2 linked regions of the Homo sapiens genome follow. The protein of the gene in region 2 interacts with the protein of the main gene of each other region in a biochemical or structural test. Each region holds a gene or a part of one and is shown on either strand. Other genes may lie near its edges.

What was found.
Region 1: the proteins of NOS1AP (region 2) and SNTG1 interact in a test that uses a peptide from one of them, tested with the Homo sapiens proteins (one large-scale study listed by IntAct).

What each region holds. Positions count from the first base shown.
Region 1 is NC_000008.11:50,659,907-50,663,406, reverse strand, and holds part of SNTG1 (gamma-1-syntrophin), read right to left. Parts: intron 1-3,500. UniProt on the Homo sapiens protein: Adapter protein that binds to and probably organizes the subcellular localization of a variety of proteins. May link various receptors to the actin cytoskeleton and the dystrophin glycoprotein complex.
Region 2 is NC_000001.11:162,362,944-162,366,980, reverse strand, and holds part of NOS1AP (carboxyl-terminal PDZ ligand of neuronal nitric oxide synthase protein), read right to left. Parts: intron 3,999-4,037; exon of another isoform or gene 1,632-3,998; coding exon of another isoform or gene 1,578-1,631; coding exon 1,412-1,577; intron 1-1,411. UniProt on the Homo sapiens protein: Adapter protein involved in neuronal nitric-oxide (NO) synthesis regulation via its association with nNOS/NOS1. The complex formed with NOS1 and synapsins is necessary for specific NO and synapsin functions at a presynaptic level.

The sequences.
Region 1 (3,500 bases), on a different chromosome or scaffold from region 2:
CCCCTTCATCTCCATCTCACGTTGCATTCGAAGAGGATTTTTAAATGGGCAACCTCAGTCCCTCCCTATGCTTGACATGCTTTAGTGGCTGTCCTTTGTTCCTCAGATAAAGTTCATGTGCTTTATTAAGGCCTTTTCCTATGATCTGTTCCATCCAAACACCAACACCAACCTCATACCCAAGATGACTACAGCTGTAACAAACTTGTTTGCCTTGTTGAAGGGACACATACTTCTTTGTAGCTCTGGGCAAGTTTATACATTATTCCTTGGACCAGGTTGCTCCTCCCCTCCTACTGGCTGGACTCCAACCCCTGCCATGACACATCTTCCTCTGTGGAGCCCTTTCACAGTCACTTAGGTTTCAGTTCATTAAAAGCCTCCTCCAAAATGCCCTTCCTAAACTCCTTCATCAGCTGGAATTTTTGTGAGTTCAACTCTCTTATACTGTTGTATTTATCCTTAATACCTAGTGGAGTGCTTGGCACATAGAAGGTACTCGAAGTAACTGATATGAATTAACAGACAAAAATGCATTCACAAATCAGTTAACCAATTCCTAATCTTCACAGCACCCTCTGCATCCATAGCTGCATTTCACAGATGAAGAACTGAAGTTCATAGTGCCCAATACACTCATAAAGGGTAATGTTTTAGTAACAGAAGTGGCATTTGTTGCCAAATTCCTTTTTCTGAAACCTTTGCTCTCTCATCAGTACCAGGCTGGCTCTCTGGTTCCCATCTTTTTTCCCAAATTATCAATATTTACGCTGAGAGACAGAGACAGTGTAGTATCATGTGCAAGAGCACAGAATTTTGACACATTGCAAGATTCATATCTTTAGCTCTGATATTTACTAGCTGTGTGACCTTAGGCTATTTACTTAAACTGCTTTTTGCCTCAGTTTCCAAATCTCTAAAATGGGAATAACAATAACTGACAGATAGTGGTGCTGTAAATACAAACTGAATTCATATACTAAGCACTTAGGACAACACCTGGCACATACATATAAACTATATGTACCAGATAAACCTTATTGCTTCATTTTTGTTATTACTGGTGTAGCTTCATTATGAACACATCAGAAGGGACAGGATTTTCCTGATTAATGGTCACAGGCAAGTTCTTCTGTGATCCAGACATTCAAATCTGACTTTTAATTAGCCTCACCTGAGGGATCCATTTTCTGGAGGCAGAAGTCTACAACTTGCACAGCTTGCATCAGAAGTGATACCTCATGGCAGGAGAGGGCTGGGCTGTAGAAGACTCCCCCTCTGATTTAGGCTGTAGAAGATGCCCCTTCTTATTTGCTCACCTGCCCCACCTATCTGACTGGCTTCCTTATCAACCAGTGATCCTGACACAGGAGAAGGCCAGAAGGTAATCTGCATGCAGGAAAATAATCCATTAGCATCGAATCTAGAAGCCACTCCTCTGTTCTCATGCTACATGAAATTTTCCTTTGGGAAAAGGAATGCTTGAAGGATGGCTTTATATGTCTAATGTCAAGCCACAAAGCATAAAGCACCAGCATTGTACTTACTAAGGGGAGGGGGACTTCCTTGATTACATACAACAATTGAAGGTAGATTTACATTGTATTTGATGTATGAGAATACTTATCGCCAGGCCTCACTAACCTATGTAAACATTTTCCCAAGTAGAACATCACACACCAGGGCCTGTTGGGAGGTTGGGGGCAAGGGGAGAGACATCATTAGGACAAATACCTAATACATGCAGGGCCTAAAACCTAGATGATGGGTGGATAGGTGCAGCAAACCACCATGGTACATGTATACCTACGTAACAAAACTGTACGTTCTGCACATGTATCCCAGAACTTGAAGTATTAAAAAAATTCAAGTAAACTAAGGCTTATAGAAAATTGTATATAGAAAGTTAAAATGAGAAGTAGTCTTTGATTTTAATTTGGTCAGAATGTAAATATACAGGCACTCTCATAGACACTTCTGATGGCCGCATAAGTTAAGATGACTTGTAGGAGGCAATTTGTACACATGGATTTAATATCTTGAATACATTAAAATATTTTTCCACATGGGGTTTCCAAAGCTCAGAATTTAGACTAAAGGAAATAAGAATTTGCATAAAAGTCTGAGCAAATATCAGTCCTTCCTACATATTATTATTTTGTCTCATTTATTTACTTACTATTTTTGTCTTCTTTATTGATTTACTTAACATCATATCACCTAATAAAATGCAAGCTCAATGAAAGCAGTGGCTTTTTCTGCATTTTTCTCAGCCACATAACAAGTGCTGAGGTTACCTGGTATATAGCAAACATTTAATTTTCTATTAAACCATTCAAATAATGATTGTTGTGATATGCCTGATAGCAATAACAAGTGGGGGAAAAAACTAAATGTAAAATTTTAAAGTGGACTCAATGAATACAAGCAAATGATGGGATAGATGAAATCTATCAAAAAGTTATCAGTGTTTTTAAGGAACATTAACTGTCATAGAAAAAAATCTCAAGACATATTTTTACACAAAATAGCAGATCATGAATTGCATAATCTTTGTCAAAAATTGTAACAAAGAGATAGAACATATTGTTTGTATATCTTGATAGAGCTAAACATAATGTTTATTATTTCCTTTAAAATTATCCTTTTTAACTACTATAGTAAACTGCATTATGTTCTAATGTTTAAATAGCTTTTTTTAAAAGAGAGGATTTAAAAGATCATGCAGCTACTTGGAGAGTGGTTAGAAAATAATTTAAGTCTAAGTAAGAATATATAAATATGTGTTGCGTTATTACTATGATAAAAGTTGTATTAGTGTACAGATAGAGAATAGACAAAGTTGATTTGTTGAGGCAGTTTTCTTTCCTTCCTTCCTTCTCCCTCCCTCCCTCCCTTCCTTCTCCTTCCTTCTTTCCTTTCTCCCCTCTGTGCACTCCCTGCCCTTCCTCCCTTTCTTTTTTCTCTTTCTTTCTTTCTTCTTTCTTTCTTTCTTTTCTTTCTTTCTCTTTTTCTTCCTTCCTTCCTTCCTTCTTTCTCTCTCTCTCTTTCTTTCTTTCTTTCTCTTTCTTTCTTTCTTCTTTCCTTCTTACTGTCTCTCTTTCTTTCTCTTTCTTTCTTCTTTCCTTCTTTCTCTCTCTCTCTCCTTCCCTCCTTCTTTCCTTCCTTCTTTCCTTTTCTTTTCTTCTTTTCTTTTCCTTCTTTTCTTTTCTTTCTTTCTTTTCTTCCCCTAATTACATGAGTAGCTTTCCTAAAAATACACAGTTCGCCCTGGCGCGGTGGCTCATGCCTGTAATCCTAACACTTTGGGAGGCGGAGGTAGGCAGATTGCCTGAGCTCAGGAGTTCAAGACCAGCTTGGGCAACATGGGGAAACCCTGTCTCTACTAAAATGCAAAAAGTTAGCTGGGCATGGTGGCATGTGCCTGTAGTCCCAGCTACTCAGGAGGCTGAGGCAGGAGAGTTGCTTGAACCTGGGAGGTGGAGGTTGCAGTGAGCCGA
Region 2 (4,037 bases):
GCCCGCCCGTGCCCTGCCAAAGCCCTTCCCAGACCAGCTTAGCAGCACCTCTCCGGGCTTTGGGTCTCTTAACACTTCACCCTTCCTCCCGCCCCCACATAGCTCCAGACACACCTCGCTGGAGGGGAGGAGCTTTGGGACGTGGTAAAGGCGGGGACATAAGAACCATATGATGGTTCTGGTAGCCACTGAAGGCTCTGAATAGGGTTAGTGGTAGGAAAAAGGTACCAATTGAGAGAACCATGTTAGAAGCCTGTGGTAACCTTTAGTACAATCATGTAAATAAGCATTAATTAGGATAGAGCAGAGTTTCAATGAACAATCTGGAAAATCCAGAGAGGCTTCCAGAGTGGTGAAGGGCACTGGTTTCCAATCCACACCTCTGGGCTACTTTAAAAATACAGGCTCCCAGACCAGCCCTAGACAGAACGATGTAGGATCTCAGTAGGAAAGACGCATTTTTAAAAGAGCTCATGGGATGGTTTGGGGGAACCACTGGTATAGTTGGAACAAAATTTTGCAATCAGATCTAGGTTTGAATCTTGGCTCTGCTCCTTGCTAGGCCTATAACCTTGAGCTAGTTACTTAACCTCCCTGAGTCTGTTACCTCATCTGTAAAATGGCATCCCATTTTTCTGCAGCAGAACTACAGGGATTAAATGAGCTCACAGGCAAAAAATTCTATCACAGTTTCTGGCACAATATGTGATCAATGGCTATTTGCTGGTCCACAGCCCACACACACTCTGAGCATGCAAACAACCCACGGAAAGGCTCAAGAGGAAGGCGTGAAAATGTGTTGCGATCTACAGCTGCCCAGCCCAGCCCAGGGGTACTGAGTGTAGAGACAGCTTCTCAAGCAGGGGCCAGGCAACCTCTGCTATTGCCCAGCAGAGCAGTGCAGCCAGATTCCACTGCCTTATCCACTGAACAGATATACTGCTCCCAGCTTTTTCTGTGTGACAGAGTCTTGAAATACATAGTGCAGAGTAGTAAACTAAGAAACAATCTGCTGTCTCCCACAGAGCTCACAGAGACCATGACACCCAATAGGTGCCAAGTATACTGTTTGTTGATTGCAAAAGCTCTCTGAGAAAGAAATGGGCTGCCCTAGAACACAGAGTACCTGAGCCCCTATCAAATAGAGACTGGATGAGCACATAGCAGTGACTCCGGGGACATTCAAAGTCCAGCCCTGGGCCTGGATTAGAAGGCACCCGAGATCTCCTTTGGGCATGTGATTCTGTAATTCATTAAGTATACTAATGGGAAAACAAAGCTGCCTATGTTTTCTGCTGGAATATAGGGGTAGGTCAGGGGTCCAAGAAAGCACCACCAAAAACTTAAGGAAAGTGACACTCTTTCCAGAGCCTTCACAGAGGAAGCAGGGCTGGGCAGGGCACTGGCTTACTGGCGTTCTGTCCTGACAGCTTCAGTTCCAGCTCTTGCACCTGCTTGACCAGCAGGGAGATGTGCTGGAGCATGTCCTTGTTCTGCAGCAAAAGCTGATGCACGCGAGCCTGGGCCTCCAGCCGCGCCGCAGCCTCAGCAGCCAACTGGTCCTTCAGCAAGTGTACCTGCAGAGAAGAGGCAGCGGCAGAGAAGACAGGACAGAGAGAAGAGAGGGACATGAATGCACATGAGAGTCACTGGCAGATGGCCGGGACCAGAGATGCCCTCCACATTCAGTTCAAGAAGAAGCCCTTCACGGGCAGCATGGGCATCTGGGCTTATCATTCCAGAGGAGGAGCCAAAAGGAGTGGGTTCACTGGCACTGCGAAGCTGTGTGTCCTAAGGGAGGGCCATGATGCATCACTAAGGTACCCATACCAAGGGCAAGAGGCAGGAAAGAGCCATCGACCCTCTAGACCTGCCACACACACACACGTACACACACACGTGCACATATACACACACACACGCACGGTGCTCCATCCCTGCTTAGAGAACTCCTTCAGCACCTAGCATGGCATGCCATGTTGGAGGTGGAAGGGGGCACTCTCTTCTCATCCTGTCTTCTAAAAAACAAAACCAAAACTCATCTATTGACCCACTGGCTAAGAACAGTGTCACAACGAAGCCCATATAATCTTTCTCCCTCTCCCACTCACCCAAACATAGTGAGAAATAGGAAGCACTACACATGGCTTTTTAAATTAGTGAGGCAGCTGTCATCAAGCCACTCTGTAGGCGACAGCTTCTTTCCCTGTCTTCCTTTTTTATTTGCTATGGCAGACATCTAGGACCATGATTCATACCACATATTACCAGGACCACCTGGTAGGGGTCAAACATTTGCTGACTGATTCATGAGAGGGCCTCCTCCAACCAGCCCAGAAGGGCTGAGGTGAACAATTTGTGGCACCCTCATCAGTTTCCAACCTTCTTAAGGCAGAGCAGTTGGCAGCAATGCATTCAGCATGCTTGAGGCCCAGTGGTGTCAACAGCTCTGTTCTTGGTGAGCAATACTTATGTGGAGATAAAACTCAGTGGGAGGAGACAGGGGCAACCAGACCAGGACCCTGGTTTGAAGAAACTGAGTTAGAAGGCCAATACCAGTGTTCACACATATGTGATTCTTGTGCAAAGAAGTGAATAAAGAGTTCTCCAGGGAGCATTTCAGAAGGCCCCTGAAGAAAGGGAACTAATGAATTTTTATGGCCTGGACCAATGTAGCTTATGGGGAAAAGGGTGTTCTTGTACCAAAACCATGGTGTGGGTAAAGACAGAGCCAGGTGAGTGGGGGCAGGAGAGGTGGGACGAGGATGCAGGAAGATGGATGGGGAGTCAAAAGCATTAGCTGATTCCCTTGCTCAGAAAACAAGTGCTCAAATTTCTGAAGAGGAGTTTGCTCCAAAGAGATTCACATTTTTTTAGGGAGTAAAGGGCAGTGCTACCTCACAGTTGGCCACCCTTGGCCAAGTGACTTGCTGGCCCAGGGTGTGCCCCTCCCAGCAACCAGCACTCAGAGAATTACACTTGTGGATACCGTGGCTGCCTCCCTCTTGCCCAGATTGGAGGCCCTGACCTTGCCGTTGACCCTATTTCTGATTGAGTGGAGCCACAGGGGCATAATGCCTAAGGAATTTAAACTAAATCTGTCCTCCATAAAGCTGCTAAGGACAGAACTGATATTTTGGTCAAGAAGTCAGACTCATTTTTTTGTCTCATATTAATTGAGAGAAGATCTGGGGAGGGGTGAGAACAGGTGTGATACAGTGAAATACATGTTTGGTCTTCATCCCTGTTTCCTGACATATAGCTCCCCAAACCCTTGAGATCTCCAGAGTGGTAAGAGTGTTTTTTGTATGCTTATTAGATGATTAGTGGTTGGGGAACCCCTGGAAGCTTCGGGATGGGGGCTGCTCACAGGACAGACCAAGGTATGATTAGAGGATAGGATTTTTCAGTCCCACGCCCCAACCTCCAGGAGATGAGGGGCTAAAAGTTAAACTAATCACCAGTGGCCAATGATGTAATCAATCATGCCTACATAATAAAGCCTCCATTAAAAACTCAAAAGGACTGGGTGTGGGGAGCTGCCGGGCAGCTGAACATTTAGAGGTTCCTGGAGGGTGGTGCACGTTGGGAGGGCATGGGAGCTCTGCCACCCTTCCCACAGACCCTGCCCTATGCATCTCTTCCATCTGGTGTTCATTGGTATCCCTTATAATATCCTTTAAAATAAACCAGTAAATGTAGGTGTTTTCCTGAGTTCTGTCAGTTGCTCTAGCAAATCAGTTGAGTCCAAGGAGAGGGTAGTGGGAACACCAATTTATAGCCACTTGGTCAGAGGTGTAGGTGACAAACTATTACTTGTGATTGGTGTCTGAAATGGGGGAAAGTCTTGTGGGATTGAGCCCTCAAACTGTGGGATCTGATGCTGTTTCCAGGTAGATAGTATCAGAATCAAACTGAGTTAGAGGACACTGTGTGCCCTCTGCAGAACTGCTTGCTTGCTTGGTGTGTGGGAAAAAGCCCCATACATTTGGTCATAGAAGTATGTTGTGACAGTATAGCAGGAAGAAACTGAGTTT